4 linked regions of the Homo sapiens genome follow. The protein of the gene in region 2 purifies or fractionates together with the protein of the main gene of each other region. This does not show direct contact. Each region holds a gene or a part of one and is shown on either strand. Other genes may lie near its edges.

Evidence for each region.
Region 1: the proteins of PHAF1 (region 2) and PPFIA1 purify together in Homo sapiens (affinity purification with mass spectrometry; 4 studies listed by BioGRID and IntAct, with this or other methods). This does not show direct contact.
Region 3: the proteins of PHAF1 (region 2) and PSMG2 purify together in Homo sapiens (affinity purification with mass spectrometry; 4 studies listed by BioGRID and IntAct, with this or other methods). This does not show direct contact.
Region 4: the proteins of PHAF1 (region 2) and OCRL purify together in Homo sapiens (affinity purification with mass spectrometry; 3 studies listed by BioGRID and IntAct, with this or other methods). This does not show direct contact.

What each region holds. Positions count from the first base shown.
Region 1 is NC_000011.10:70,371,681-70,378,704, forward strand, and holds part of PPFIA1 (liprin-alpha-1), read left to right. Parts: intron 1-512; exon of another isoform or gene 513-531; coding exon of another isoform or gene 532-534; coding exon 535-710; exon of another isoform or gene 711-796; coding exon 797-894; intron 895-3,237; coding exon 3,238-3,413; intron 3,414-4,851; coding exon 4,852-4,920; intron 4,921-6,349; coding exon 6,350-6,515; coding exon of another isoform or gene 6,516-6,523; exon of another isoform or gene 6,524-6,791; intron 6,792-7,024. UniProt on the Homo sapiens protein: May regulate the disassembly of focal adhesions. May localize receptor-like tyrosine phosphatases type 2A at specific sites on the plasma membrane, possibly regulating their interaction with the extracellular environment and their association with substrates.
Region 2 is NC_000016.10:67,105,353-67,112,960, reverse strand, and holds the start of PHAF1 (phagosome assembly factor 1), read right to left. Parts: upstream 3,021-7,608; 5' UTR 2,786-3,020; coding exon 2,722-2,785; intron 1,523-2,721; exon of another isoform or gene 1,450-1,522; coding exon of another isoform or gene 1,401-1,449; intron 1-1,400. UniProt on the Homo sapiens protein: Plays a regulatory role in autophagic activity. In complex with BCAS3, associates with the autophagosome formation site during both non-selective and selective autophagy.
Region 3 is NC_000018.10:12,713,027-12,720,050, forward strand, and holds part of PSMG2 (proteasome assembly chaperone 2), read left to right. Parts: intron 1-5,490; coding exon 5,491-5,609; intron 5,610-7,024. UniProt on the Homo sapiens protein: Chaperone protein which promotes assembly of the 20S proteasome as part of a heterodimer with PSMG1.
Region 4 is NC_000023.11:129,543,254-129,550,277, reverse strand, and holds part of OCRL (inositol polyphosphate 5-phosphatase OCRL), read right to left. Parts: intron 5,321-7,024; coding exon 5,241-5,320; intron 1,716-5,240; coding exon 1,677-1,715; intron 1-1,676. UniProt on the Homo sapiens protein: Catalyzes the hydrolysis of the 5-position phosphate of phosphatidylinositol 4,5-bisphosphate (PtdIns(4,5)P2) and phosphatidylinositol-3,4,5-bisphosphate (PtdIns(3,4,5)P3), with the greatest catalytic activity towards PtdIns(4,5)P2.

The sequences.
Region 1 (7,024 bases), on a different chromosome or scaffold from region 2:
TTTTTCAACTATAATTGTGAATTTGCCTGTTTCCCCATTTAGTCCTGTTGGTTGTTGCTTTATCTCTTCTCTAAAACTATATTTTAACTGACTTTTACTGATTTTGAAATGGATTTTTTCTTTAGGAAAACAAAGTGTTAAAATGTAAACCAACCAGAGATAATTTTAGTGAGCAGTGTTGAATTGAGCCTTCAAACTTGTTCATGAGTCGTGATCAATCTTTGTCACATTATTATACTAAAAACTATCTCAGAGAGGAAATTTATAGCCAGTTACAGTTTTTTTGTAGTTTGATTTAAAAGTTAAATTTATCACAACGAATCATATATTTTTCATGTTACTATTCCTGTTGTATAAAAATTTTACTAACAAATTTAAAAGGTGAGAAGAGATCAAATTATTTTGCAATTATAAAATTATCATTAGTTTAGCCTTTGAGAATATAGGTAATAGATTAAAAATTCATTTTAAAAATGATATAAACTACTTTTGAGACTTCCTCTGTAACTGACCTTTTCCATTTATGAAAAGCAGACACTCGCCTATGGGGACATGAACCACGAGTGGATCGGCAACGAGTGGCTCCCCAGCCTGGGCCTCCCCCAGTACCGCAGCTACTTCATGGAGTGCCTTGTAGACGCCAGGATGCTGGACCACTTGACCAAGAAAGACCTTCGAGGGCAGCTGAAAATGGTCGACAGTTTTCACAGGTAACTTAATGGAGATAGTTCTTAATAATTGGCTAAGATTTTTCACTGTTACCATCTCTAAATCATCTCTCTTTTCTTCCAAATAGAAACAGTTTCCAGTGTGGAATTATGTGCCTGAGAAGGTTAAATTATGACCGGAAAGAACTGGAAAGAAAAAGAGAAGAAAGTCAGAGTGAAATAAAAGGTTAGTACATGACATTTAATTGATTCGGTTTACTCCTACTTGCTGGTGTGTTTGGAGCCTCAGTGACTTCCTATTTTTCAAAAAATCAAGAAAGGCTAAATTTAAGTGGAGAAAACTAACTAGTCTAGTGTCATTGCAGAGGAGGGCTGGATGAAGTTGAGTGCTTTTGAGATTCTCTTCCACAGCTAGAGAACTGTTCCCTGTGTTCTCACACATCAGTCTGGAGGTTAAATGTCTCCGGCTAGTCGTTTCCTGTGAGTTGAGAGTTTTCCTTTGGTCATGCCCTGTGTACTCCTTCACTCCGAAATGCTGTTCCACACTGTTAGATAACAACAGAGCAAAGCTCACTTGATGATTCAAGTGTGAGAAATATGACTGGGGGCTTATCCAAGGGGTTCAGGAGAACAGGAGAGCACCGTGCAGTTCTGCTCCCGGAGGGGAAGGAGAGGCAGCGTCTGCATTTCAGCTGGTCCTTGAAGAAGGAGGAGGAGCTGCTTAGGGTAAGGAAAAGGCATTTCAGTTGGAAAACACAGGCCAGGGAGGCGTTAGAGGATGTGAGACATTCATCCAGAAGACGTGGAGTTGGTTCTCTTCTCCGTTGGGGAGTCCCTCACTCGTACTCAAATTTATTTGTTTGTTTGTTTATTTATTTATTTAATTTATTTTGAGACAGGGTCTTGCTCTGTAGCCCAGGCTAGGCTGGAGTGCAGTGGTGTGATCACAGCTCACTACAGCCTTGAACTCCTGGGCTCAAGTGCTCTTCCTGCCTTAGCCTCCCTAGTAGCTCCTGGGAGTACAGGTGTGCTCCACCATGCCTGGAATTTTTTTTTTTTTTGTAGAGACAGGGTCTCGCTATGTTGCCTAGGCTGATCTCGAACTTTTGGGCTCAGGGGATCCTCCCACCTTGGCCTTCCAAAGTGTTGGGATTACAGGTGTGAGCCACCACACCCAGTCAGAATTTGCTTTTAAAATTAGACAGTAAACATTAAGCTCAGAGTAATGACTCCCAGAATTCCTGGAATGCAAGGAAGTCACCAATAACAATAATGATAAGAAGAGGCCAGTCTTACTAACAGTGAGTAGGTGCCAGGTGGTGTTCTAAGTACTCAGGGGTTGCTTTCTTTCATCTTTACCTTAGCCCTGTCAGTCTAAGTGCTGTTTTCATCCCCACTTTATACTAAGAAAGAAACTAAGGATAAAAATATGGTTGGGAGATGGCCCAGTTGAAGGGAAGTCTACTTGTGATTGAGTTAATGTGAATCAGGAGAAAAGTCGTAAGTCGACATTTATACAGTGTGTGTATATGTATGGACTTTTATCCAGAAAAGGGCATTGGCAATGAAATATGTCCATCTGTTTTGTTTTCTGTATCTATTTTACATCTTTTTCCAATAGACAAAGATCTTTGGAAGTGTCTTTGGAAGTGATTGGTGATCATCTGCATATATTTTTAGAGTGGCTATTTTTAGATCTAATAGAGCAAATTGAATAATTTGTTAATTTGCATAAGATATTGTGGCTGGGCATGGTAGCTCATGCCTGTAATCTCAGCACTTTGGGAGGCCAAGGCAGGAGTATTGTCTGAGCCCATGAGTTCAAGACCAGCCTGGGGAACATAGTGAGACCCTGTCAGTACAAAAAAATTAGCTGAGCTTCGTGACACACGCCTGTAGTTCCAGCTCCTCAGGAGGCTGAGGTGGGAAAAATCACTTGAGCCCAGGAGGTTGAGGCTGCAGTGAGCTATGATGGTACCAGGCTGTATCCAGCCTGGGTGACAGAGCAGGACATTGTCAAGAAAAAGAGAGGAAAAAAAAAGATTTTCTGCAAAGTCTCTAATGTGCTGGATGATATTGTTAAGTTTCTCTCATTTTAAAATGAGACAAAGACTTCGAGATTAGAAATGAGAGGTTTCTGTTGAATTGAGCAAAGTGTTCATATTATTATGGAGCCAGCTCCATCCGTGATGAAGTATTTCAGAAGACTCTCCAGTCTGTGTGTGAAGCATGTTTATACATGTTAGGTATTCAAGTTCTTGCAGTCCTCTGGCTTCTGATCCCTGGATCCTCATCATCTTCTTTTCTCTAGAAATAATAACTTCATTCCTCTCGTGCTCACTGGAAGGATGAGTTCTAATGGGAGAGTCTCCCTGAGAGTGGAGCAGGGCCAGGACACCATTGTCTCAGTGCAGCAAATGGTTGTCTATTTAGCAGTGTCTCCCAGCACTTTTCTCAGGAGCCGAAGGATTAGGAACCATGGTAGGAATCTTTCTCCTGCATTACAGGGTACATGTGATAAAGATGGCTTTCTGAAGCCACTTTTATAATTGTCTTTATTCTTTTGCAGACGTGCTTGTTTGGAGCAATGATCGAGTGATTCGCTGGATCCTGTCAATTGGCCTTAAAGAATATGCAAACAATCTTATAGAGAGTGGTGTTCACGGAGCACTTCTGGCCTTAGATGAAACCTTCGACTTCAGTGCACTGGCACTGCTGTTACAGATCCCGACGCAGAACACACAGGTGACGCCAAACCTGTCTGTGTCTGCACTCATTGTTCAGTTGGCACCCTGATTATAGACAGCTAGTTATTCGAATAGAAAGAAACTTTAAAAAAAAAAAAAAAAAAAAACTTCAGACAACTAGTTTTTGGTTTTTTTTTTTTTTTTTGGTCTATTGGCTTTCCCTTTTCTGTTGGAAGCATGAGAGTCCTGCAATAAACCAGATAAGGACGATCTTTCATTCCAGCCCATGTGCCTGATCAGAAGAGTGACATATATTTAGTTCTTACATGGAAAGAGAAGTGTTTTTAGGTGTGCCACATGAAGATTTTATTAATTTTGTTTTTATGGGTAATTGCCTTATGCCATTCTTTTTGACTCATGGGCTCATTTGAAAAACAGGGAACTTTTATTCCTCTACAGAACATTGAATATGCCAGGCAAGGTGGCTCATGCCCACAATCCCAACACTTTGGGAGGCCCAGGTAGGCAGATTGCTTGAGTCCAGGAGTTCGAGACCAGCCTGGCCATCATGGTGAAGCTCTGTCTCTACAAAAAAATACAAAAAAATTAGCCAGGTGTGGTGGCACATGCCTGTAGTCCCAGCTACTTGGGAGGCCAAGGCAGGGAGATTGCTTGGCCCGGGAAGTGGAGGTTGTGATGAGCTCTGATTGCGCCACTGCACTCCAGCCTGAGTGACAGAGTGAGACCCCCATCCCAAAGAAAAAGGAAAAAAAAAAAAAAAAATTGAATATCTTTGGCCAATACCCCTGACCAACCCACACAACACACCCTTGTTAATATGACTCCAAGGATCATGGATCCCTTTCTGCAAAAGCCCATCCATTGACTCCACATTAGATGCCCTGATTTAAAATATTATTATGGTTCAATGTAGTCATAGCAGTGAGGGAGTTGTTTTTTTGTTTGTTTTGAGATGGAGTTTCGCTCTTGTTGCCCAGGCTGGAGTGCAATGGTGCAATCTTGGCTCACTGCACCCTCTGTCTCCCAGGTTCAAGTGATTTTCCTGCCTCATCCTCCCAAGTAGCTGAGATTACCGGCACACGCCACCGTGCCCGGCTTATTTTTGTATTTTTAGTATAGATGGGATTTCACCATGTTGGCCAAGCTGGTCTCAAACTCCTGATCTCAAGTGATCTGCCTGTCTCGGCCTCCCAAAGTACTGGGATTACAGGCATGAGCCACCACACCCAGGCCCTAATTTTTGTATTTTTAGTAGAGACGGGGTTTTACCATGTTGCCCAGGCTGGTCTTGAACTCCTGACCTCAGGTGGTCTGTCCGCCTTGGCGTCCGAAAGTGTTGGAATTACAGGCGTGAGCCACCAGACCCAGCCAGCAGTGAGGGAGTTTAAGTCTTGGTTTAAAAAACAATTACGATGCTAACACCCTTCAAATTAGATTTGATGAAAGTTTTATTTGTTTTTCTTTGGTTATTTCAGGCTCGTGCTGTCTTGGAAAGAGAATTTAACAACCTTTTGGTCATGGGGACTGATAGAAGGTTTGATGAAGTAAGTTTTTGGCCTAATGTTCTTTAAATGTCTGAAATGTGTGTAAATGTTTAAATGTGTGTGAAATGTAAGCTGTTATTATTATTATACTTGGGACATCATGTAGCTAGGCAGTCTCTCTGGATGTTAGAAGTCAGGCTTTGCTCTTATACATTTATTCACAAATGAGCCTTTAAAAACTAATACCTGGGCCGGGCACGGCGGCTCGCACCTGTAATCCCAGCACTTTCGGAGGCTGAGGCGGGCGGATCACCAGAGGTCAGGAGTTTAAGACCAGCCCGGCCAACATGGTGAAACCCCATCTCTACTAAAAAACACAAAAATTAGCCGGGCGTTGTGGTAGGTGCCTATAATCGCAGCTACTTGGGAGGCTGAGGCTGGAGAATCGCTTAAACCTGGGAGGTGGAGGTTGCAGTGAGCTGAGATCGCACCACTGCCCTCCAGCCTGGGCGACAGAGAGAAACTCCATCTCAAAAAGAAACCCCCTCCCCGCAAAAAAAAAACCCACAAAAGTAATACCTTCAAGAAGGTAGTTTTGTTTTTATTTTTGCTATTTAATTTTTGACATCCCTCAAAAATGGTTTTCACATCATAAAACATTGGTTGCAGCTTAGGAACAGAGTCTGTAAGTTGGGTTTTGGGGACCAGTAGTTATCCTACCCCAGTCCAGAGTGTACCCCCATACTCCTGTGCATGGGTGGGGTGGCATGTTTCAGAAGTATATTAAAAACACAAAATGTTAATTTCCCCTTAAAACCATGACTCATTTGTTCCACACGATTAGGAGTCTCTTAATTGGACCTTAAGAAAAGTTGAGTTTGACAGAGAGAATAGAAGACCACCTCTAAAGATGAAGCACTTGTTGCTATATCCTGGCATAAGATAAAATTGTTTCTAGTTAAAAATTGTTTGTAGAGCTGCGTGTGGTAGGGGCACACCTGTAGTTCCAGCTACTTAGGAGGCTGCGGTGGGAGGATGGCTTGAGCCCAGGAGTTTGAGGTTACAGTGAGCTATAATCACACCACTGCATTCCAGCTCGGGCAACAGATCTAGACTCTGTCTGTAAAAACATAAATAAAAATGAAAAATAAACTATTTTTAAGATAAATAAAAACGTATTACGTTGCAAGAAAGTGATTCCTGCAAGGTGTAAGAAGTAGAACATGATGCTGTGGAGAAGGAGCACATCCTCATGGCCCAGCACCGACCTCATTTCGCCAGCTGAGGCCCAGCCGGACCATCACCATGCCCCGTTTCACGCTGAAGTTCCAGGTTGGGCAATATATTGTGTGGTCATCAAGAAGGGATTAAATACATGTGGACAAGAATACATTCTCGAGATCAGCAGTCATTTTAAAGGACATGTAACTTTACATCTCTGACCTTTATTTTTTAAATGAATCTTGTTTTTTGTTCCTTAATTTACCAGGATGATGATAAAAGCTTTAGGAGAGCACCTTCATGGAGAAAAAAGTTTAGACCAAAGGACATTCGTGGCTTAGCTGCTGGGTCAGCAGAGACTCTCCCTGCAAACTTCCGGGTGACTTCTTCTATGTCTTCCCCCTCTATGCAGCCAAAGAAGATGCAGATGGACGGTATGTGATGGGTCACACTAACCTGTCACTTGTTGGGAGCATGAGCAGCTTTCTGTCTGGAACATTAATAATGATCTAAAACGGCCTATTTAATATGTTACAAGGCACTTGAGTATGGTTGCATGTCCAAATATAAATGTTTTTAAATTAACTCTAACATTTGTTTATAAAAGTTTAACCATAATAATAGAATTTTTAAAACACGCTTGTCTGGTTGAATCTTAGCATATTTTTCCAACTAATAAAGCTCAGTATTCGTCTGTGTTCTCAGAGAGAGACTGAGGCATACTTGTAAATTTGTGTCTGTGACAGGCCGTGCTAGAAAGCTCTTTCAGGAAATAGTAGTGTAGTAGTAGCTTCCAAACCACATAATTTACTGCTCTCCACACCAGAGAAAATAACTGAGTACATTTTTAAGAACACACAGTTTCCAGCTTGTGTGAGCTCTGCCTATGCTTTCTGCCCTCCCTGCTGCTGCTGTTCCGTGCAGTCACATGTCTACCCATTAG
Region 2 (7,608 bases):
ACAGCCCCAAATGTAGTTTGGACGTGTTCAGGGTGGGGGAGGAGATTGACAGAGGTGGAAAATGACTTTCCATTTTTAAAGTCTGATAAAGTTAAATTAACACCATCTCTCAGGCAGACACCATGTAAAAATGAATTTTAAGACCCAAGGGAATCATGAAGCCTCTGGGCCAGTCTATGAGCTTCCCCCTAAAATTCAATTCTTGACCCAATATACAGAAATGCCCTTCTCACTGTTTTTGGTTGCTATTTAGACAGTTTGTAAGAACTGTGTAAACCCTTGATTCCTGGGAAACTAGCAGAGCTAGGAGTCAGGGTTAGGGTATCAAAACAACAGCTGAGAGAAGCCTTGCTCTCTCACTCAGTTTTCTGGAAATCCTCATCTCAATTAATATCCTAGTAACTACTTTTTTTTTTTGTCTCCTTGAGACAGGGTCTCTCTCTGTCACCCAGGATCACGCCCAGTGGTGTGATCATGACCCACGGCAGCCTTGACCTCCCAGCCTCAAGTGATCCTTCCATCTCAGCCTCCCGAGTAGTTAAGACTACAGGCCTGGCTTTTTTTTTTTTTTTTTTTTTTGGTAGAAACGAGGTCTCACTATGTTGCCTAGGCTGGTCTTGAACTCCTGGCTTCAAGCTATCCTCCTGTCTCAGCTTCCCAAAGTGTTGGGATTACAGCCATGAGTTACTGCACCCAGTCCCTACCACTGCTTTTGACCAAGGGACTCTGAATACTTGTACCACCAAGAGATCCACAACCTAGTCACACTACTAAGCACAGTTTGAAGCTATGGTTGTGGTTTTTATCCAGCCGTGGGAGGATCTTGCTTGGGTAGAAGCTGTCAAGGAGAGGGGAGGAAAGGAGTTAACCAGAAGCCAAACAGCATTAGCATGGTATCACCAGCCTTCCAACCAAGCTCTTAGTGCTTCACGAGAGAATGGAGCATTTTGTACCAGCTAATATTTTGGAAAGAACTCTGCAGGAGTGGTGTTAAGTTATGAAAGAATTTGGCCAACTCCCCTAAATTAAACCGGCTTTTATGGTTGGGCATGGTGGCTCACACCTGTAATCCTAGCACTTTGGGAGGCCAAGGCGGATCACTTGAAGTCAGGAGTTCGAGACCAGCCTAGCCAACATGGCGAAACCCAATCTCTACTAAAAATACAAAAATTAGCCGGGTGTGGTGGCAGACGCCTGTAATCCCAGCTACTAGTAGGGAGGCTGAGGCAAGAGAATTGCTTGAACCCGGGAGGCAGAGGTTGCAGTGAGCCGATATTGTGCCACTGCACTCCAACCTGGGCAACAGAGTGACTCTGTCTTAAAACAAAACACCAACAACAAAAACTAGCTCTTACAACACACAGGACATATGTAGCCACTAAGCATCAGCAGGGCCTTACCAGCAATCTGTACCACCTGGTTTCTCCAACACACTGTCTCCACAGACATAAGTCTTCCAGAGTCAAGGATAATTTATAATCCAATGGAGCAGCTGATTTAGTCCAGTAGCTCACACTAGAGTGACTAAAGTTCAGGCCTGCACAAACAAACAGCACCAACACCTACCCCACCCCCTTTTCTTAGTGCTGGGACATCAAAGTAAACACACAGGGGTTACTGAATGCAAACATCCTTGTACACATAAAAGTAGTGATGCTGGAAATGGAGAGGGTGAAGGGAGAAGGCTGGGCCAGCAAACCCCAAAACGACCAAACTGCATTTTTTAGAAACTAAATGTTACTTCTCCCTAACTCCTATTTCATCCAACCTTCACCTGTCACAACTGAGGTCTGGGTTTAGGATTACAGCATCCGATACAGACTATATTTCAAAAGAGAGAGAAGCGGGGCCGGGTGCAGTGGCTCACGCCTGTAATCCCAGCACTTTGGGAGGCCGAGGTGGGCGGATCACGAGGTCAGGAATTCGAAACCAGCCAGCCTGGTCAACATGGTGAAACCTCGTCTCTACTAAAAATACAAAAATTAGCCGGGTGTGGTGGCGCGTGCCTGTAATCCTAGCTACTGGGGAGGCTGAGGCAGGAGAATCGCTTAAACCCACGAGGCGTTAAGTTGCAGTGAGCCAAGATCACGCAACAGCACTCCAGCCTGGGCGACAGAGCGAGACTTCGTCTCAAAAAAAAAGAAAAAAAAGAGAGAAGCAAGTCAGCTGTTCCTTTAATACACACAAACTCAACTCCCTTGACCAGAGCCCCAACATCTGATCATGGGTTCCAAGCCTAGGTTTCCCCTCCTAAAAAGGGGAAGGAAGCCACAGCCCAGAAAAGCAGTGGGAGACAGACCACAGGCCACAGTGATGATCAGAGGGGTCAGCCACTTCTCAGCCATTATTTAGTCTGTAAAATGGAAATGGGAATAACAACAGTACCTATCCTCAGGTGCCGGCGAGGGGTACTAGAGAGAATTACGTCCAAAAAGAGCAGGGCCGGGCATTAGGCATTTGGGGAGAGCAAGCTATTATTGTCTTTACTACTACTGTTCCACCGTCCCAGAAGAGACCCTGCTGAGACCCGAGACGAGCAACTGACAGGCAAATCGGGCCAGTTGGAGCGGGTATCTAGTGCCTGGAGCCCAGCGAGCCGAGAGGACGAAAGAGGTGAGGAGCTGCGGGCGCAGGGGCGTGAGAGACTGAGAACAGGTGGGAAGAGCCCAGGAGAAAGCAAGGATCAGCGAATGGGGTCCTGACAGAGGACCCCAAACTCACCCAGCGTGAATTCCCATTGCTCGTTCCCCAGAGAGCGTTCGGGCACTACCTCCAGGTCCAGCATTGGTTCGGCTCGCCTGGCCCGGGCGGCCTCCCTGCGGCAGCGCAGAAGGGACCCGAGCTAAGGAGACAAAGCAGCGGCTGACAGGCCGCCCCCGCCGGCCCGCCACAGCCCCGCTTTCCACCTCCTCCCCGGCGGCAGCGGCAGCAGCACCGGCCCAACACCACACCTCACCTCACTTCACCTCACCTGCAGCAGCCGCGGCAGCGGGGGCAACGACGGCGGCGGGCGCGACTGCAGTAAAAGTGGCGTGCCGGGCCGTAAAGCGCGGGGAGGGCCGGGCGAAGGCGGGAGTGCCAGCGCGAGGGAGGAGCCTGGGGCGGAGCCGCGCACGCGCAAACTGCGGGTCCCGCCGCCGTCTCTGCGGAGGCTGAGTCGGGCAGGGCTGTAACGTTGGGAACTGTTCGGGCTCTAGGAGCAAGGAGCCCAGTACTTCGTGAGCCCCTACATCTGTGCACCACAGCACACACACTTCACATATCTACATAAAGAAGGGTTCACCACACAACACACACGTCACACAGCTGCACAAGACCCGTCTGCTGTCTACACACACGTCCCACTCACGTTCACTGGTAGCAGAAGGCAAGTACAGAGGGCACGCTGAGGCCCAGCAGGAGGGAGGACGCGGAGTCCCTAAGCCTCACGGCCCCCACCGTCTCCGTTGGGGCCGGAGGTGACGCTGGCCGCAGCAGCTTTTAGTTGTTCAGGAATGACGGCCCCACCCAGTCGCCCCTGGGGCAAGGGTCGAACCGTAAGCGAGTGAGGACTGTGGGCGTTAGGGGTCGGAATTGGTTCGGGGAGAGGACTGGGTAGAAGAGGAAGGGGCCAGGCCAGGCCTCCCTGCTGACCACATCCAAATGTGCGCAGTCCCCCGGGACCAGGATCCGAAGCCGCCGGCAGCAGCGTGGACCAAAGCTGTGGGGGTCTTGATCAACCCCTTGGCGCTTTCTGTGCCACAGTTTTCCTAATCTGCAAGGGACAGGAAGGTTCCTCTAGCAGGTTCAGCCTGAGGTTTTGGCCCGTGCCCCGGGACACCCTGAAACTAAAGGACAGCCGAGGCCTATGCTGATGCCAAGCCTTCACGGAGGCAGTCTCTGGGTTCTCACAACCAACCTGAGATGCGAGATTATACCGACTTTACATAGGCGAATACATGAGGCCCAGAGATGTTAAAGACCCAAGGCTCCTTGGTTCTAGGCGCAGAACCCAAGTCCTTTCCATTACATTGCCCCTGGAAGAAGGTTTTCAGTAGGGGAGAGAGTGGCATACTAAATTCTCAAACTGGCTTGATACTAGCGTTTCTTTGGAGGCTCTATCAAAATTTGAAGTCGCTGTTTGATTAAAATGAACTACATGGAGAAGGTTGTCCACTGCAGCATTGTATGCCAAAACAACAGAACTGGGTCACTGAGATGTCCAGTAGGGAAGTGGCTAAATAAACCGTGATATAGATAGATAGATAGATAGATGATAGATAGATAGATAGATAGATAGATAGATAGATAGATAGATAGAGATATGTTTTTAAAGGTGAATGCTGAGAGCAGTGCTCACAGCGGTAATACCAGCACTTTGGGAGGATGAGGTGGGAGGATCGGTTGAGCCCGGGAGTTGAGACCAGCCTGGGCAACATAGCAAGACCCAGTCTCTATTAAAAAAAAAAATTAGCTGGTGTCATGGCAGTAGGTTGGGCCAGGAGTCCTAGCTACTCAAGAGGCTGAGAGGTGGGAGGATAGCTTGAGGATAGCTGCAGTGAGCTGTGATTATTGAGCCCCGGGGCTCCAGCCTGGATGACAGAGCAAGATCCTGTCTCTAAATAAATAAATAAATAATAAAAAGTGAAGTAGGTCTCTATGTTGATGTGGAAGGAACTCCAAGAGAAAAAAGCCAGGTGCAGAAGTATGCATACCATGACCACCCACCACCCCCCTCCCCCGGCCTTTTTTTCTGTAAAAACAAAAATAAAAGAAACAGTGGCTGTACCAAAAAGAAAGAACATTTCTGGAAAAATAAAACATTGTCAATCATACCTAATAGAGTGGCAGAGGACAGGAATCAGGGGGTCATTATTCCTTATCATGACAAGCATTAAAGATATGTTTAGAAAAGCCTAGTTGGGCAGCTGGGCTAGATAGCTTGGGAAGGAAATCTGGGGAAAAATCTTAAGATTGGTGAGGAGCAATCTTAGTCAATTAAAAGTGTCTGGCTGGGCGCGGTGGCTCACGCCTGTAATCCCAGCACTTTGGGAGGCCGAGGCAGACAGATCACCTGAGGTCAGGAGTTTGAAACCACCCTGGCCAACATGGTGAAAACCCGTCTCTACTAAAAATAGAAAAAATAGCTAGGTGTGGTGGTGCATGCCTGCAGTCCCAGCTACTTGGGAGGCTGAGGCACGAGAATCACTTGAATCCAGGAGGTAGAGGTTGCAGTGAGCCAATTATCACCCCACTGCATGCCAGCCTGGGCAACAGAGCAAGACTCTCTCAAAACTTGGAGGGGACTTATTTCTGGAGGAGAAAGATGGGTGGGGCCTAAATTGGGGTGGGATAAGCCCAGTGGGGTTGTGGGATAAGCCCAGTGGGGTTGTACCAGAGGCAAGACAAAGAAGAAACCACATCATTCTGGATAACAAAGTGAAAAGGATTTCTAATTTGGGTAACCCCCAAACAGAAAGAACAAAGTTGTCGGGGAGCGCCCTAAGAAATTCCCTGTTGGAATAGTAGGCAGATTTCTGTGAACAATGTTAGTCAACAACAAAAGTTTATCTGGCCAGGTGTGGTAACTCATGCCTATAATCTCAGCACTTTGGGAGGCTGAAGTGGGAGGATTGCTTGAGGCCAGGAGCTTGAGACCAGCCTGGGCAATATAGCAAGACCCCGTACACACACACACACACACACACACACACACACACACACACACACACGCCAGATGTGGTGGCACATGCAGGTAGTCCCAGCTACCCAGGAGGCTCAGGTGGGAAGACCACTTAAGCCTGGGAGTTTTGTTGTTGTTGTTGTTGTTGCTTTTTGTTTTTGTTTTTGAGACGGAGTCTCGCACTCTCGCCCAGGCTGGGGTGCAGTGGCGCCGTGGCGCCATCTTGGCTCACTGCAAGCTCCGCCTCTCGGATTCACGCCATTCTCCTGCCTCAGCCTCTCGAGTAGCTGGGACTACAGGGGCCCGCCACCACGCCCGGCTAATTTTTTGTATTTTTAGTAGAGACGGGGCTTCACAGTGTTAGCCAGGATGGTCTTGATCTCCTGACCTTGTGATCTGCCCGCCTCGGCCTCCCAAAGTGTTGGGATTACAGGCGTGAGCCACCGCGCCCGGCCGAGCTTGGGAGTTTGAGGCTGCAGTGAGCTATGTACTGCACTCCAGTACAGCCTAGGCAACAAAAGAATGAGACTGTATCTCTAAAAAAATAAACAGAAGTTTATCTTTGCTCATTTAATGTTGATTCACCCAGGTTTTTATCCAAGGTGGGAATAACAGCTTTGGGATGGTGATATTAGGAGGCCTTGGCCCAGAGCCCAATACACACACACACAATAGAAGCAGAAGGTGCCTGGCAGGAGCAGGCCAACTCAGGAGAATGTCAGCTACAGCCATTCCCCCAAACTGAGGGTAGGGATGTTCAGAAATATGGAATTGGCTAATGAAAAGCATATTCAGGGAGGGCAAGTAGTCATGGTAGCAGTCAAAGCCAGACATGCAGGGACAGCTTCAGGTCAGAACATGGTGATTAAGCTCAGGGACTCAAAATTTGAATCCCAGTTCTGCCACTTAATAGCTTTGTGCCTTGACAAGTTAATTAGCCTCTCCATGCCTTAGTTTCTTCTGTAAAATCTGTAACAATCTCACAGATTTGTTAGGAGGTCTGTACTTGTGTGTCTGGCTTACAGGTAATTGCTTTGTGTATAACTAAAATTTTAAAACATCTAATAGTAACAGAATTGATGGAATCCACTGGCAGGATTTACAGATTGCATGTGGGAGATGAGAGAGACTGGGAGTCAAGAATAACGACATAGTTTTCCCAGCTTGGGTAGCTGGAAGGACGGTGATTGGAGGAACTGACATTGGCGTTTGGAAGGATGTCAATCCTTCTGGTAAAACTGTCACGTGATAACTTGGAAGGGAAGAAATGTAACAAGCTTGAAACATTACTTGAAGAACTTGGAAAACAATCTTAGTACCATGGTTATTTATTAATTGCATTTGCCAAGTTATTTTTTTTTCTTTTTTTTTTTTGAGACGGAGTCTCACTCTGTTGCCCAGGCTGGAGTGCAGTGGTGAGATCTCGGCTCACTGCAACCTCCGCCTCCCAGGTTCAAGCGATTCTCCTGCTTCAGCCTCCCCAGTAGCTAGGATTACAGGCACGTGCCACCATGCCCAGCTAATTTTTGTATTTTTAGTAGAGACGAGGTTTCACCATGTTGGCCAGGCTGGTCTTGAACTCCTGTCTTTAGGTGATCCACCTGCCTCAGCCTCCTAAAGTGCTGGGATTACAGGTGTGAGCCACCGCGCCCAGTTAGATTTTTTTTTTTAAAGCCAGTTTGAAAGCAGGAATGACAGGTAATGTGTACAGCAAATGAGGGATGGGGCTAAAAGTCATGGAAAATGGTGGAGCAGGGAACCCATCCTAATAGGCCTTACAAAGAACACTCCCCTCTGTTAGGGCAGAGGGCCCTCAAATGGTTTCCAGTGTCATTTCATAATTGTTACTGACCGGTGACTTCATTCTTCCCCTTTCTGAAGGCAAGTGCTTCCTGCAATTTTTCTGTCCCTGTCCCACCACTGTGTACTGGGTGCGTAGATCCTGG
Region 3 (7,024 bases), on a different chromosome or scaffold from region 2:
AGGTTTATTCCATTTGTATTACCTTTCAGCTGGTGGCATCTACATATAAACTATGTATATATCAAATTATGTATATGTCATAAAATATTCTGAATCCGACTTCTTTCCTCCTCCACTGCTGTCATTGAGTGCAAACCAGTGTCATCTTCATGCCCCTGACTAACTTGCTGATCTGCCTCCCACAAACAGCAGCACTGATGATCCTCTAAACGTACACCACATCACTACTCTCTTTGAAACCCTCCAGTGGCTTCTCCTCTCACTCAAAATTGTGATCCAGGAAAAGGGGCTCGCTTCCTGATGCACTGTGACACCAGGTTTTTGAGACAAGAAAGGCTTTATATTGCAAATTGACTCCCAAGGAGACAGGAGTCGACCTCAAATCTGCCTCCCTGTGCTGACTTCAAGGCAGTGTTTTTATTAGAAAAGGTTCAGAGGGTGGATTCTGAGATCAGTAGGTGAGCGATGGAAGGAAAGGGGACATCTGGAAGGTCCTTGGGCATGCACAGTTATCTCCTCATGCTAACTCATAGGGCTCATGTGCCAATTCAGGGGAATGAGTATGAAACGTGATGGAGAGTCAGCTTGCGACACCAGGAAGCTTGTTCTCTGCAGACTCTACTTGGCCATATTGGTTCCAACCAATTTCAGCCAGTTCTTTTATCCCATAAGGGGAGGAAGTTTCAGTATTTTACCAAGTAGTTTCTTATCTGCTACCCTGCAAACTCAATAATTTCTTTCTTTTTTTTTTTTTGAGACAGTCTCCTCTGATGCCCAGGCTTAAGTGCACTGATGTGATCTCAACTCACTGCAGCCTCTGCCGTCCTGGGTTCAAGTGATCCTCCTGCCTCAGCCTCTGGGATTACAGGGACACGCCACCACACTGGCTAATTTTTGTATTTTTAGTAGAGACGGGGTTTTGCCATGTTGGCCAGGCTGGTCTCCAACTCCTGCCCTCAAGTGATCCACCCACCTTGGCCTTTCAAATGCTGGGATTACAGGTGTAAGCCACGCCCAGTCCAAACTCAAGAATTTGTTAGTCATTGGTTTCTTTAACTCTTTGAGGATGGTTTCAAATTCACAGCCCTTACTGTGGCCTATGAGGCTGTATATCTGTGCTAATACAGTAGCCACTAGCTACATGTAACTATTTACAGTTTAATTCATAAATTTAAAATTCAGTTCCTCACGTTCCAAGTTCGCAGGAGCCCCATATGCAAAAAGCCAGCATAACAAGAGTCATGCTCACAGGAGCTCTGCCAGACTGCTGCTTTGCAGAGCCTAACCTGCAGCCACACTGGCTTCCCTGTGTTGTTAGACATTAAGCTCATCCTGTCTCAGTCTTTCCACTAGCTTCTCTGCCGAAATTCATTTTCTTAGAGACTCCAATGGTTTGCCTCCTTTACTGTTTTCTTAAATGTTTCTTCATGAGAAAGGCCCTCCTAAACAATCCTTTCTTCCTTTTTTTTTTTTTTTTCCTTGAAACAGGGTCTCTCTTGCTCTGTCACCCAGGCTGGAATGCAGTGGCGTGATCTTGGCTCACTGCAACCTCTGCCTCCCAGGCTCAAGCCATTCTCCAACCTCACCCTCCCGAGTAGCTGGGATTACAGGCATGCACCACCACACCCGGCTAATTTTTGTATTTTTTTGTAGAGGTGGGGTTTCGCCATGTTGCCCAGGCTGGTCTTGAACTCCTGAGCTCAAGCAGTTCATGCTTCAGCTTCCCCAAAGTGCAATGGCGTGATCTCAGCTCACTGCAACCTCCGCCTCCTGGGTTCAAGTGATTCTCCTGCCTCAGCCTCGCAAGCAGCTGGATTACGAACGTGTGCCATTGTGCCCGGCTAAGTTTTGTATTTTTAGTAAAGATGGGGTTTCACCATGTTGGCCAGGCTGGTCTCAAACTCCTGACCTCAGGTGATCCACCCACTCCACCCACCTCAGCCTCCCAAAGTGCTGGGATTACAGGCATGAGCCACTGTGCCCGGCCCTCTTTTTTTTTGAGGCAGAGTTTTACTCTTGTCACCCAGGCTGGAGTTCAGTGGTGCAATCTCAGCTCACTGCAACCTCTGCCTGCTGGGTTCAAGCGATTCTCCTGCCTCAGCCTCCTGAGTAGCTGGGATTACAGGTGCCCGCCACCACACCTGGCTAATTTTTGTATTTTTAGTAGAGATGGGGTTTCACCATGTTGGCCAGGCTGGTCTCAAACTCTTGACCTCAGGTGATCTGCCCGCCTCAACCTCCCAAAGTAGTGGGATTACAGGTGTGAGCCACCACACCCAGCCGAAAGTAAGCTTCTGAAAGGAATGATGAAGTGTCATTTACTTTTATATCCCCAGCTCATAAGATAGTGTCATGCACATAGAGAAGCTCTCAGTAAATATTTGCTAAGGGATTTTTTGGAATGACCTGAGGTATCATCTTTTCAGGAGGTTAGAAATACAGGATTTTAGTGACATGGTTAACTGCATAGTACTTTTTATTTTAACTTTTCTTTTTGAGATGGAGTCTTGCTCTTGTCGCCCAGGCTGGAGTGCAGTGGCGTGATCTCAGGTCACTGCAACCTCCGTCTCCTGGGTTCAAGCAATTCTCTTGTCTCAGCCTCCTGAGTAACTGGGATTACAGGTGCCCGCCACCACGCCTGGCTACTTTTTGTACTTTTAGTAGAGTTGGGGTTTTGCCATGTTGGCTAGGCTGGTCTCACACTCCTGACCTTAGGTGATCTGCCCACCACAGCCTCCCAAAGTGCTGGGATTACAGGCGTGAGCCACTGTGCTCAGCCATTATTTTAACTTTTTATCGAAGTATGACGTACATGAGAAAAGTGCACAAATCATAAATATACAGCTTGGTGAATTTTCATGCAGTAAACCCTCTGTGAAACCAGCTTTCAGATCAAGACATAGAGCATTGTCAGCATTCCAGAGGACCCCATAATGCGTCCTAGTCAGTATTCTATTGGTGGAATTCTGTGGTATATACTTACAGCATCTAGCTTCCTTTCTTAACATTCCCTTTGCGGGGTTCACCCATGTTGTTGGAAGTAGCCATAGTTCATTCGTTCTCATTTCTCTGTGGTGTTAAGTTGTATACATAAGCCATAATTTTTCCATGGTACTTTTGATGCTACATTTGATTATTTCCAGTTTGAGACTATCATGAATAGTGCTGCTAAGATTATTTTTAATTCTTATACTAGAATCACTGCTTTCTTTAGTTAACATTATATACCCAAAGTTTTGCAGTTAGAGTTGGTAACATTTTTACATTGTGCCACATGGCTTTTTGTTCTCTTTCTAATCAGTGTAAGTTGAAAAATTATTTAACGTATAATATAAATTTTTGGCAGCTGGAAGTAAAGAGTGAATTTTTTTTTTTTTTTTTTTTTGAGACGGAGTCTCGCCCTGTTGCGCAGGCTGGACCGCAGTGGCATGATCTCGGCTCACTGCAAGCTCCACCTCCTGGGTTCACGCCACTCTCCTGCCTCAGCCTCCCGAGTAGCTGGGACTACAGGCGCCCACCATCACGCCCGGCTAATTTTTTTGTATTTTTAGTAGAGACGGGGTTTCACCGTGTTAGCCAGGATGGTCTCGATCTCCTGACCTTGTGATCTGCCCGCCTCAGCCTCCCAAAGTGCTGGGATTACAGGCGTGAGCCACCGTGCCTGGCCACAAGACTAATTTCAAAATAGCAAACATTTATTGAGCATTGATTCTTTGTGCTGATACTGTTCTAAGTACCTTATATTTATTACTTAATCCTCATGACAAACCTATAAGACAGATACTAATATTATCCTTATTTTTCAAAGGAAACACTGAAGTACAGAAAGATTAAGCAATTGCCTGACACATGATCTTAGGGAGGCAGGACCAGCACTCTAACCCAGGCAGCCTGGCTCCAGAGCTTGCCTTTTTTCTTTTACTTTTTTTTTTTTTTTTTTTTTTGAGACAGGGTGTCACTCCACCCAGGCTGGAGTGCAGTGGCACAACTATGGCTCACTACAGCCCTGACCTCCGAGGCTCAAATGATCCTCCCACCTCAGCCTCCTGAGTACCTGGGGCTACAGACGTGCACTACCATGTGTAATAATTTTTTTTTTTTTTGTAGTAACAGGGTCTCACTATATTGCCTAGGCTGGGCTTTAACTCCTGGGCTCAAGTAGTCTGCCCACCACGGCCTCCCAAAGTGTTGGGATTACAGGAGTGAGCCACCTTGCCTGTCCCAGAGCCTGCCTCTCTTAACTGCTGCACTAGACTACCTTCTTATTTTAAAAGTTAGCCTGCATTTCTCTTACCTGCATTTTAAATTTTATTGAGTAGTTATTTTATGAGCAGTCTTTGAAAAATTTTCATAAAGCGGGCTCCCCCTGAAATTTTATAACCCACATTCCAGATTTACCAGCTGTGAATGTCTTGCCACACCTACTTGATCTCTCGCTATGCGCGTACACAGTTTCCTTCTTCGAAACAATCCAGAAGTAGGCTAGCAATGGTCACCCCTACATACTTCCGCACACATCTTTCAAGAACAGGACACCATTACCACACCCAAGAAAACCAGCATTTAATGAATTTATTCAGGAGTATCATCCAACATACTCAAATTTCCACAGCTGTTCCGAAAGTATCCTTCAATTCTGGATCCATTGATGGTTCACAGGTTGTATTTGGCTGTTACATCTTTTTAGTTGTTATCCTTCAGAGTAAAACTGGCCTGCCCCTCTTTCTTTCTTTACAATATTGACTCCTTTGAGGAACCGGGGCTGGATGTGGAGCATTCTCCATTCATCTGATTGTTTCCATGTGACCAGATTCGGGTCACAAATTTCTGGCAAGAACCCTTCACAGATGACCATGTATTGGTTATTAGGTAACAATAGATTACTCAAGTAGAGAACTGGGAAATTGTCCTTTGTCCATCACAATAGATTTTTTTTGAAATCTAGATTCCTCATGATTCATTGATTTCTTTTCTTTTTCTTTTTTCTTTTTTTTTTTTTTTTGAGAAAGTTTCACTCGGTTCCCCCGGCTGGAGTGCAATGGCACAATCTCGGTTCACTGCAGCCTTCACCTCCTGGGTTCAAGTGATTCTCCTGTCTCAGCCTCCTGAGTAGCTGGGATTATAGGTGCCTGCCACCATGCCCCGCTGATTTTTTTATTTTTAGTAGAGATGGGGTTTTACCATGTTGGCCAGGCTGGTCTTGAACTCTTGACCTCAGGTGATCCGCCTGCCTCCCAAAGTGCTGGGACTACAGGCGTGAGCCACCATGCATGGCCATTGATTTCTTAATTATAAAGATACATTAGATAATTCATTGCTCTTTATCATTCACTTTCGGTTTAAGCACAGTAAGTGGATCTGAAAATAATTTCAGTATATATAAATTATATATCATTATCACATAAAGTTGATGAAATAGTATATAGAATGTTTGTATGCTCTAAGACTAACTTTTAGATTTTCTTTTTATTCTCTCAATGGTGTGCAAAGTATAAATCAAAGCCATTCTGTGAAAAACTGCTTTCCTGGGTGAAAAGCAGTGGCTGTGCCAGAGTCATTGTTCTTTCAAGCAGTCATTCATATCAGCGTAATGATCTGCAGCTTCGTAGGTATGTTTCTGCCTCTGGAAAGTTATTTTTGGTATGGTTTATACTATGATAATTTCTCTATTAAAAAGTTAAACTTTAAAAGCCACGTAGATCCTTACCTCTTCTTACTGGAGTTTAGAAAGAGGGGGGTAAGAGAAGGTCAGGAGATGGGAGGGAGTACAGTTAGGCAGATCTTTTCAGTTCCTGTGAGCTTAGTAGAGTTGGGGCATGGGGAAGACATCGTGTAGAGAGAGAGAGTTTGGGAACCATGTTTTTAGTGTTTCCCGTCACATACATGGCAACATCACAGAGCTCAGCTAATTGAAGAGAATAAGCAGAAAAGGTACTCAAGATTTATAAAGTTGCTAACTTTTGAAAGGTTAATATTTTCAGTTATTTCCATATGTTACCTTGAAAGATTAATATTTTCAGTTATTTCCATATATGCTACCATTTTTTAAAAAACATTTACTTTTTGTAGAGACAGGGTCTAGCTATGTTGCCCAGGCTGGTCTCGAATTCCCAGGCTCAAGCAGTCTGCCTGCCTCAGCCTCCCAAAGTATTGGGATTGCATGTGTGAGCCCCCCGCACCTGGCCACATGCAACCATTCGTATTTGCAGAAATCCACTTGCCTAAAGGGTAGCTCCCTGGCATGTCAGAGTGAGTTCTTAAATGTAAGACAGAGTATCCCAGAAATAGAACTATAAGCTATCATTACCACATAAAGTTGATAACATATCATATAGAATACTCTTATACTCTAAGATGTAGCTTTTATTTATTTATTTTTGAGACGGAGTCTTGCCCTGTCACCCAGGCTGGAGTGCAGTGGCATGGTCTCAGCTCACTGCAACCTCCACCTCCTGGATTCAAGCGATTCTCCTGCCTCAGCCTCCTGAGTAGCTGGGATTACAGGTACCTGCCGCCACGCCAGACTAATTTTTGTAATTTTAGTGGAGGCTGGGCTTCACTGTGTTGGCCAGGCTGGTCTCAAATTTCTGACCTCAGGTAATTCGCCTGCTGGGTCTCCCAAAATGCTGGGATTACAGGCATGAGTCACTGTGCCCGTCCCCAGGATGTAGCTTTTTTTTTTTTTCCTCTTTTTTTTTTTGAGACGGAGTCTTTCTCAGTTGCCCAGTTCTCAGTTGCCCAGGCTGGAGTGCAGTGGCGCAATCTCGAGTCACTGCAACCTCTGCCTCCTGGGTTCAAGCGGTTCTCCTGCCTCAGCCTCCCGAGTACTTGGGACTACAGGCGCATGCCACCACACCCGGCTAATTTTTTGTGTTTTTAGTAGAGACAGGATATTGGCCAGGCTGGTCTCGAACTCCTGACCTCAGGTGATTTGCCTGCCTGGGCCTCCCAAAGTGCTGGGATTACAGGCATGAGCCACCACGCCCGGCCCCAAGATGTAGCATTTAGATCATTTATTTTTTAT
Region 4 (7,024 bases), on a different chromosome or scaffold from region 2:
CTGGAAGGAAATACATAAAAATGTTAACCACAGTGGTGATCTCTAGATTGCAGGAAAATAATCTTAATTTGATACTTTAAGCTTTTCTGAATTAGTAAATTGTATATAATGAAGATGTATTACTTCTGTGAGAAAAAATTATTTACAAAGCATTTAACACCAATATCCAGACAATGGGAAAATGCATATTTACATTAAAATCAGGCCTGCCTAACAAACCCAAGATCTCCTTCCTGCAACACACCGTGTACCATAAAGGTTTATGTATGAAGCCCAAGGATCAAGATAAAATATGGTTTCAGTGCAAATACTACTAAATGGGTAGAAATAACAAAGGATTTTATTCAAGTGGTCACTTACCTATTTTCCCCCTATGAGCCAGTAACTAGAACTCTGGACATAGCAACACATGGCTAATGTAGAAGCGGCCACAACAAAACTAATGCCGAAAATTAGGTGCTTATAAGAGAAAAGGCACAGCTCAGTTTAACTTTTCAGCTTTGAATCAAATACTTCTCCACATCAAATACAGGACATTTCCATCTCTTATTTCAGCAGCAGTGTCAGTTGTTATGGAATTGCTTTTGTTCTAGTTTTGCTTTTTTAAGTGTTGTTTTTGCCTTCTCCTTTCTAAGCACAATAAGAAATAGACATTAAGTTATTTTCTCTCTTGGATACTTGCAGCTGGGGTTTACCTGGCCTTTCAGGCACAGCCTTTAAGACTTCTAAAATTCACGACCAAAGGGAAAAAAAAAAAAACTCAAGCCAGAAAAAAAGCCTACTTAAAGTGTTCAATACAAATTAATAGTGCCAAGGGCAGGGACTGTCTAAACAAAGTTATGTAAACCCCTAGTCCCAAGCTCAGTGCCAGTTCCCACTCATCCAAGGACTCAACCAAGAGATAAGGCAACCCATTTGATTTAGATTCATGTGGTCAGATACTCTTTTCCATAGCAACCTCACAGTAGCATCGAGTGCCCATTTTCTCCACTCCATAAAATAGTACAATTAGATGATAAACAAAGAACAGTTTGCACAGAAAGTCAAAGATGATTTGCTTCAAACAGATAAAAATGAGAGAATGGAAACATTGAAAAGAAGATCATGTTCCCTCTAATAAAGAGATGCCTTGAGGGGATGGGGCTTAAATAAAAGACTAAACTTTTTTTTTTAAAGGAATGCCTGGACAAGCAATTTAAGGGACTCTTCAGCCTTCCAAAAAAATACAACAAATAAAGGAAAATATTATGACTTAACACACAAAATTTAAAAAGAGGGTAGGGAAAAAACTTAAAATGTAATAGCAGTTAAAAAATGACCAAAAAAACTCCACCAATAAACCTTATGTGCTTTAAACATCAGCCCTTCCTACAATTATCAATTCTACAGCAATGATTCAACTGACAGCAACAATACTGGTAGCTCACGGAAGTTCAGCATTAGAAAGGTAGATCATTATTTTTTATTTTTATAAAGATTCTTACCAGCCACCTGCTTTTTCTTAGGCTTAGCCTACATGTTTTTGGGAAACAGTGCTAATTTGTATGGCTGCTACAGGAGACTACAGGAAAAGATGGTAAAATAAAAAATGTGCCCCAAAAGGTGTCTTAAATGTAGTGAGTGTTCAAGTAAATATTTGTTGAGTAAAAATCAAGCACATTCAGAAAGATACTCACTGTTAGAAGCTATGTCAATCAAAAGAGTTTCTTCTGCTTCTGAGAGGGGAAAAAAAAGAGAGTAGGATTAGGGAAGAGAAAACCACTCACTACAACCAAAAGAATACATGCCTAACTAAATAACTGCTTCTCTCAGTCACTACTCCTAGGTCTTAGAACATATTTTTTTAAATCCCTTTTCGTTTAATATTTTTTAAAGGGATTTTTTATAGCACTGGGTTCTAAAGACTATGAGCAAATCAACTAAAATAAAAATGAACTGAAGAAGTAACCAAATGGAACTCCTCAAAGCAAATCAACGAATGAGAAATTAATAGTACAGAACATAACAACATGTTAATTCAGCGAAAGCAAGTTTAATTCCCCTTAACTGTAACATAATGATTTAACTCTGGGTCCTTTAGATACTTCTTTAGATAACAGAAGGCAAAGGAAGTGACCCTGAAAGCCCAGAGGTGAATTACTTTCTTAACTCAGATCTATTCTCTGAAAATTTCCCAGTGATCTCATCACCTCTGCCCCTGCCCCACACATGGGGGCAGAGTATACCTTCAGGTTACAACTACTACCTGTGGGCCCAAGGCCCTCCGTACCAAACAGGGTGCAAAGCAGTCTGCAAGTTTGGATTTCTCTTATCTCTCAATGGTTCTCCTGGACTTCTTCCTTTACAACAAGTGTCTAGACCCAACCTATCTCTTCCCCTCTGATTTCTCTGGATTTGACCAAGTGCACCTGCCAGACCCTCCTGGCTAATTGAACTCTGGGTACTGACTCCTTGGGATTAGCCTGGATCTACCTTGGTCAAATGGAGTAGTCTCACCTTTTTCACCTCCCTCCCAAGACTGAATTGTTTATTTGGCTCCATTACTCAGGTACAACAGAAGCAACTGGCAAGGAACTAACTCCTTTAACACTAAAAAGTAGTCTCGATATTATTATTAGGATGATTAAACAAGGGGAATTAGGGCATCAAGACATAGATATTGTATGCTTACTACTGTTCTTCATTAACTTTTAGTTCTGTAAAACCTGAGTGTTTACAGATGGTTTTCTTTTTCTTTTTTTTTTTTTTTTTTTGAGACGGAGTCTTGCTCTGTCACCCAGGCTGGAGTGCAGTGGCACGATCTCGGCTCACTGCAAGCTCCGCCTCCCAGGTTCACACCATTCTCCTGCCTCAGCCTCCCGAGTAGTTGGGACTACAGGCACCCGCCACCATGCCCGGCTAATTTTTTGTATTTTTAGTAGAGACGGGGTTTCATCGTGTTAGCCAGGATGGTCTCAATCTCCTGACCTTGTGATCTGCCCACCTTGGCCTCCCAAAGTGCTGGGATTACAGGCCTGAGCCACCGCGCCCAGCCGGTTTTCTTTTTCTTTAGAGATGGCCTCACTCTCTCACCCAGGTTAGCATGCAGTGGCACAATCACAGCTCACTGCAGCCTCGAACTGCTGGGCTCAAGCAACCCTCCTGCTTCAGCCTCCCAAGTAGCTGGGACTACATGTATCTGCCACCACGTCTGGCAAATGTTGTTTTTTTAATTTTATTTTTGTACAGATGGGGTCTCGCAATGTTGCCCAGGCTGGTCTTGAACCCCTGGGCTCAAGCAATCCTCCTGCCTCAGCTTCCCAAAATGTTGGGATTACAGGTGCAAGCCATCGCGCCTGGCCACAGTTTACAAAATAGATGCAGGGGTCAGGAAATAGAAAGGAGATGAAAATCAAAAGTAAGTCTTCCTTTAGTCATGGGGAACTACGTTACATGTGTGCACATATTTTCCCAGGTTCTAAGAAGCAGCACTACGATCTAACAATCAGCAATTGATTTCTTATTAAAAATACTAAGAGAAACAGGGTAAAAGAGATCCTAGAGGTAGAGTAAAAAGGTACAAAGCTAATAGGATATTAATTTAAAGTCATGTTCTTTGGCTCTTCCCCTCTGTGAAGGCCTACACCTTGAAAAGTGAGGTGGCCACAGCAACTTACTATGGAACGTGGCTACCTTGTTTAGTATGTCTCTCTCACATAGGGCAGGCTAAATAGCTATCACTTCATTCTTCCATACAAATATGGACACTATTCATTGAAGTTATTTTTAATTCTTAACACATGCATTCTTAAAAAGTCATATCCACTAGCTTAGTATTTTCACTTATAGGAATACATCCTGAGGAAATAAGAGATGTGCAGGTATATTTAGGTGCAGAGATGTTCATCATATTACTATTGATACTAGTGAAAAATAACCCAAATGTCAACATAGGGGAATAATTACATTATGGACCATTCATAAACTGGTATGGTATATAGCCATTAATGGCATGGAAAAGTGCTCATAATACAATAGCATGTAGAAGAGACAAAAAATTGTATAAGATGAGTATCACTCACCCTGCAATGTATGTGTAGAAAAAAGGAAAATGCTAGGTGTTTATCTCTGAAAGGATGGGAATTTAAGTGACCTATTTTCTTTACACTTTTCTGTTCTTTCCAAATGTATTACATTATGTACATGTCACTTAGTGATTAAAAAAAAAGTTCAATGTAGTTTAAGAAATAATCCATGCAAGGTAAGATTTAAGTTTTCCAAGAAAGGCCAGGCATGCTGGCTCACACCTGTAATCCCAGCACTTTTGGAGGCCGAGACAGGCAGATTGCTTGAACTCAGGAGTTTGAGACCAGCCTGGGCAACATGGCGAAACCCCGTCACTACAAAAATTACAAAAAAAATTAGCTGGGGGGTGGTGCACCTGCAGTCCCAGCTACTTGGGAGGCTGAAGTGGGAGGATCACTTGAGCCTGGGAAATGACCTTGTCTTGAAAAAACAAGTTTTCCAAGAAGCTACAATTGATACAGAATGCTTCTGCTAGATAAAGCCACTGGTCCTAGTGAAAACAGAATGCATTTGTTCTCTAGTATCAATTTCCTTTCTAGAGCAATGTGAGATGACAGAAGCAACACCTCCTACACAAACCTCCCAATTTTTAAGTTTCATTGTAGCAGATGAAACAACAGATTTTCTATGCTCCGTCCCCAAATTTGAGGGCAGGAGGCCAAATATTTCCTCCCCAGAGTCAATTTTCTTATGATTCACCAATGTCAAGGTTTGAGAATCAGCACAATTGAGTGTAAGATATTACAGTCTGGCAAGGCATGTTGCCAAATGTCTTAATTTCAAATAGCATGTGGAGAAAGTGCTGAATGTGTGTGAATCCAAGTGACCTTGGTACCTTATGAGCACTGTGTCCGTTAAGCCCAAGAATGTTATTTAAATCCACATATAGGTCAGTCAGCATAAAAAACTACCTACACAGGTAACAATCTACATACATCTCTAACCCAAGCCAAGGAAACAGGTGAGACTATAGACACACATATACAAATATATTTCGATATAACCCTTCAGCATTCTTAGAGAAAGTATCATCTCCTCAATGTTATCTTTTTATGCAAAGAGTAATACATTTCATTTTACATGCACTGACAAATTTAAATATGTATGGTATTACATAATGCAGTAATGACCGAGAAAAAACATTATAAAACTAGCTAAGGAATTAAAGCTAGTACCTTGAACACATCTGAAGTGGCTATTTATAGGAATGATATCTTGAACATGCTGTTCCTTCTCATGCAACTGGATTATTAACCTAGGAAACAGAAGAACGCATCAAAGAACAGCCACTGAAAAACTCATTTAGCAAAAAAATACTTCACTGTCCTGTTATACAAATCTAGTCTGTATTTACTAGACTTGCTGCATCTAGTTCCCTGGATCTGAGCATCATGACAGCTAGATATTGCTCTAGGCCTAAAAGGATGCTAGTGGTGATGAACATCTGATTACCCACACTGTTCTCTAGGCCATATATCCTAAAAACAGTGTACAAGCTTAAGAGCATGAATTACAGAGTATATAGCTTCAGAGTATGCATACCAGAGTGAAGAACTGACAGCTAGATGTGAAGTCCATGAGTGCAGGGACCACAGCTATCTTTACACCACGGAATTTCTAGTACCTAGCACAAAGCCTGGCACACAGGAGTTGCTCGTGTGTGTGGAATCAATGAATTAGAAAATTCATAAATTAACCTTCCAATTATATTCCCATGGCTTTTTACCAAAGAATGGATCTGTCTCTTCAAACAAGCATTCAGGTTCATGGAGGAGTAAGAGGGGGTGCTCAGCCAGCTGGATTGGTCAAAATATCAGTGACCAACAAGGTGGCAGATATCACAACTGGATTGCCTTCAAATCCCTTGTTTCTTCTCTGGTTTCCAAGTTTACGCTGGTATTTCTACATAAACATGAGTAAACCTGACTCCCCAGATGAAATCCATACTTCTAAATCCATACGTACTCCTGAAATATTAATTTTTCATTTATTATTTATCCTTAGTGGTCCAGAATCAAGGTACGACCTACTGGTAAACAGCCATTCTGAACGTCAACTAGCATTCTCAAAGTCAAGCACTCTTCAAGTATTGTTTTTAGTTTTTTGTCAGGAACACTCTGTTTCTTTCCGAGTTTCATCTCAAATATCACCTCCTCCATGAAACTGTCCTCAGTACCCCCAAGCAGAACCAGCAGCCTTATCGCCTTTGTTTGCCCCTCTAATAGAACACTTACACACTCCATTATGGTTATATTTATTTCCCCTCACTGATTTCAGCTCCTTGAAAGCAAAGACCAGATCATATTCAGTTTTGTCTGCAGCCTAATAGATGCTCAACAAATACTGGCTGAATAAATTAACTAGCTTAATTAAGCTATAAGCAGCGGTGAATTTTTCAATGAAACTGTCCAACTTCTGACATTAAAATGTCATTGTTTTGAAGGGTTTGATTTCTATTTTGTTGTCTTTTGGGGGTGCTTGTTGCTTTTGCTTTTTGCATTTTCAAATGTGTTAACTTTGAAGAGGATAACCTGGGATAGGATAAGTAATTACTTAGATAGAACTAAGGGAAATAAAAGTATTAATGCTGTTTTTCTGCTGTGATCCTTCTTGCCTAATTTGCAGGGGTTTGTACTCTAAGGTGATTACAGGAATATGGGGCAGGCCCCTTTCCATCTGGAAAGTTCATGAGTTGAGTGGAGAGTCCTATAAACCCAGATGGAAACCAGAAACCAGATAAAAGGCTGAGAAATCAAGGGTTAAGGAGGAAGAGCTTACTTTGAGGAAGATAAACACAAACCACTAAAATCTCAAAATACATAAACAAGAAATGGTGTTGAACATTAGCATTAAAGCTTCATCTGGACAGTACTGTTAAAAACTATTACAAAACAAATAAACTGAGAATTTAAGTGAATTTCACCAACATTTATTGAGTATTTACTACGTGTTACCCACT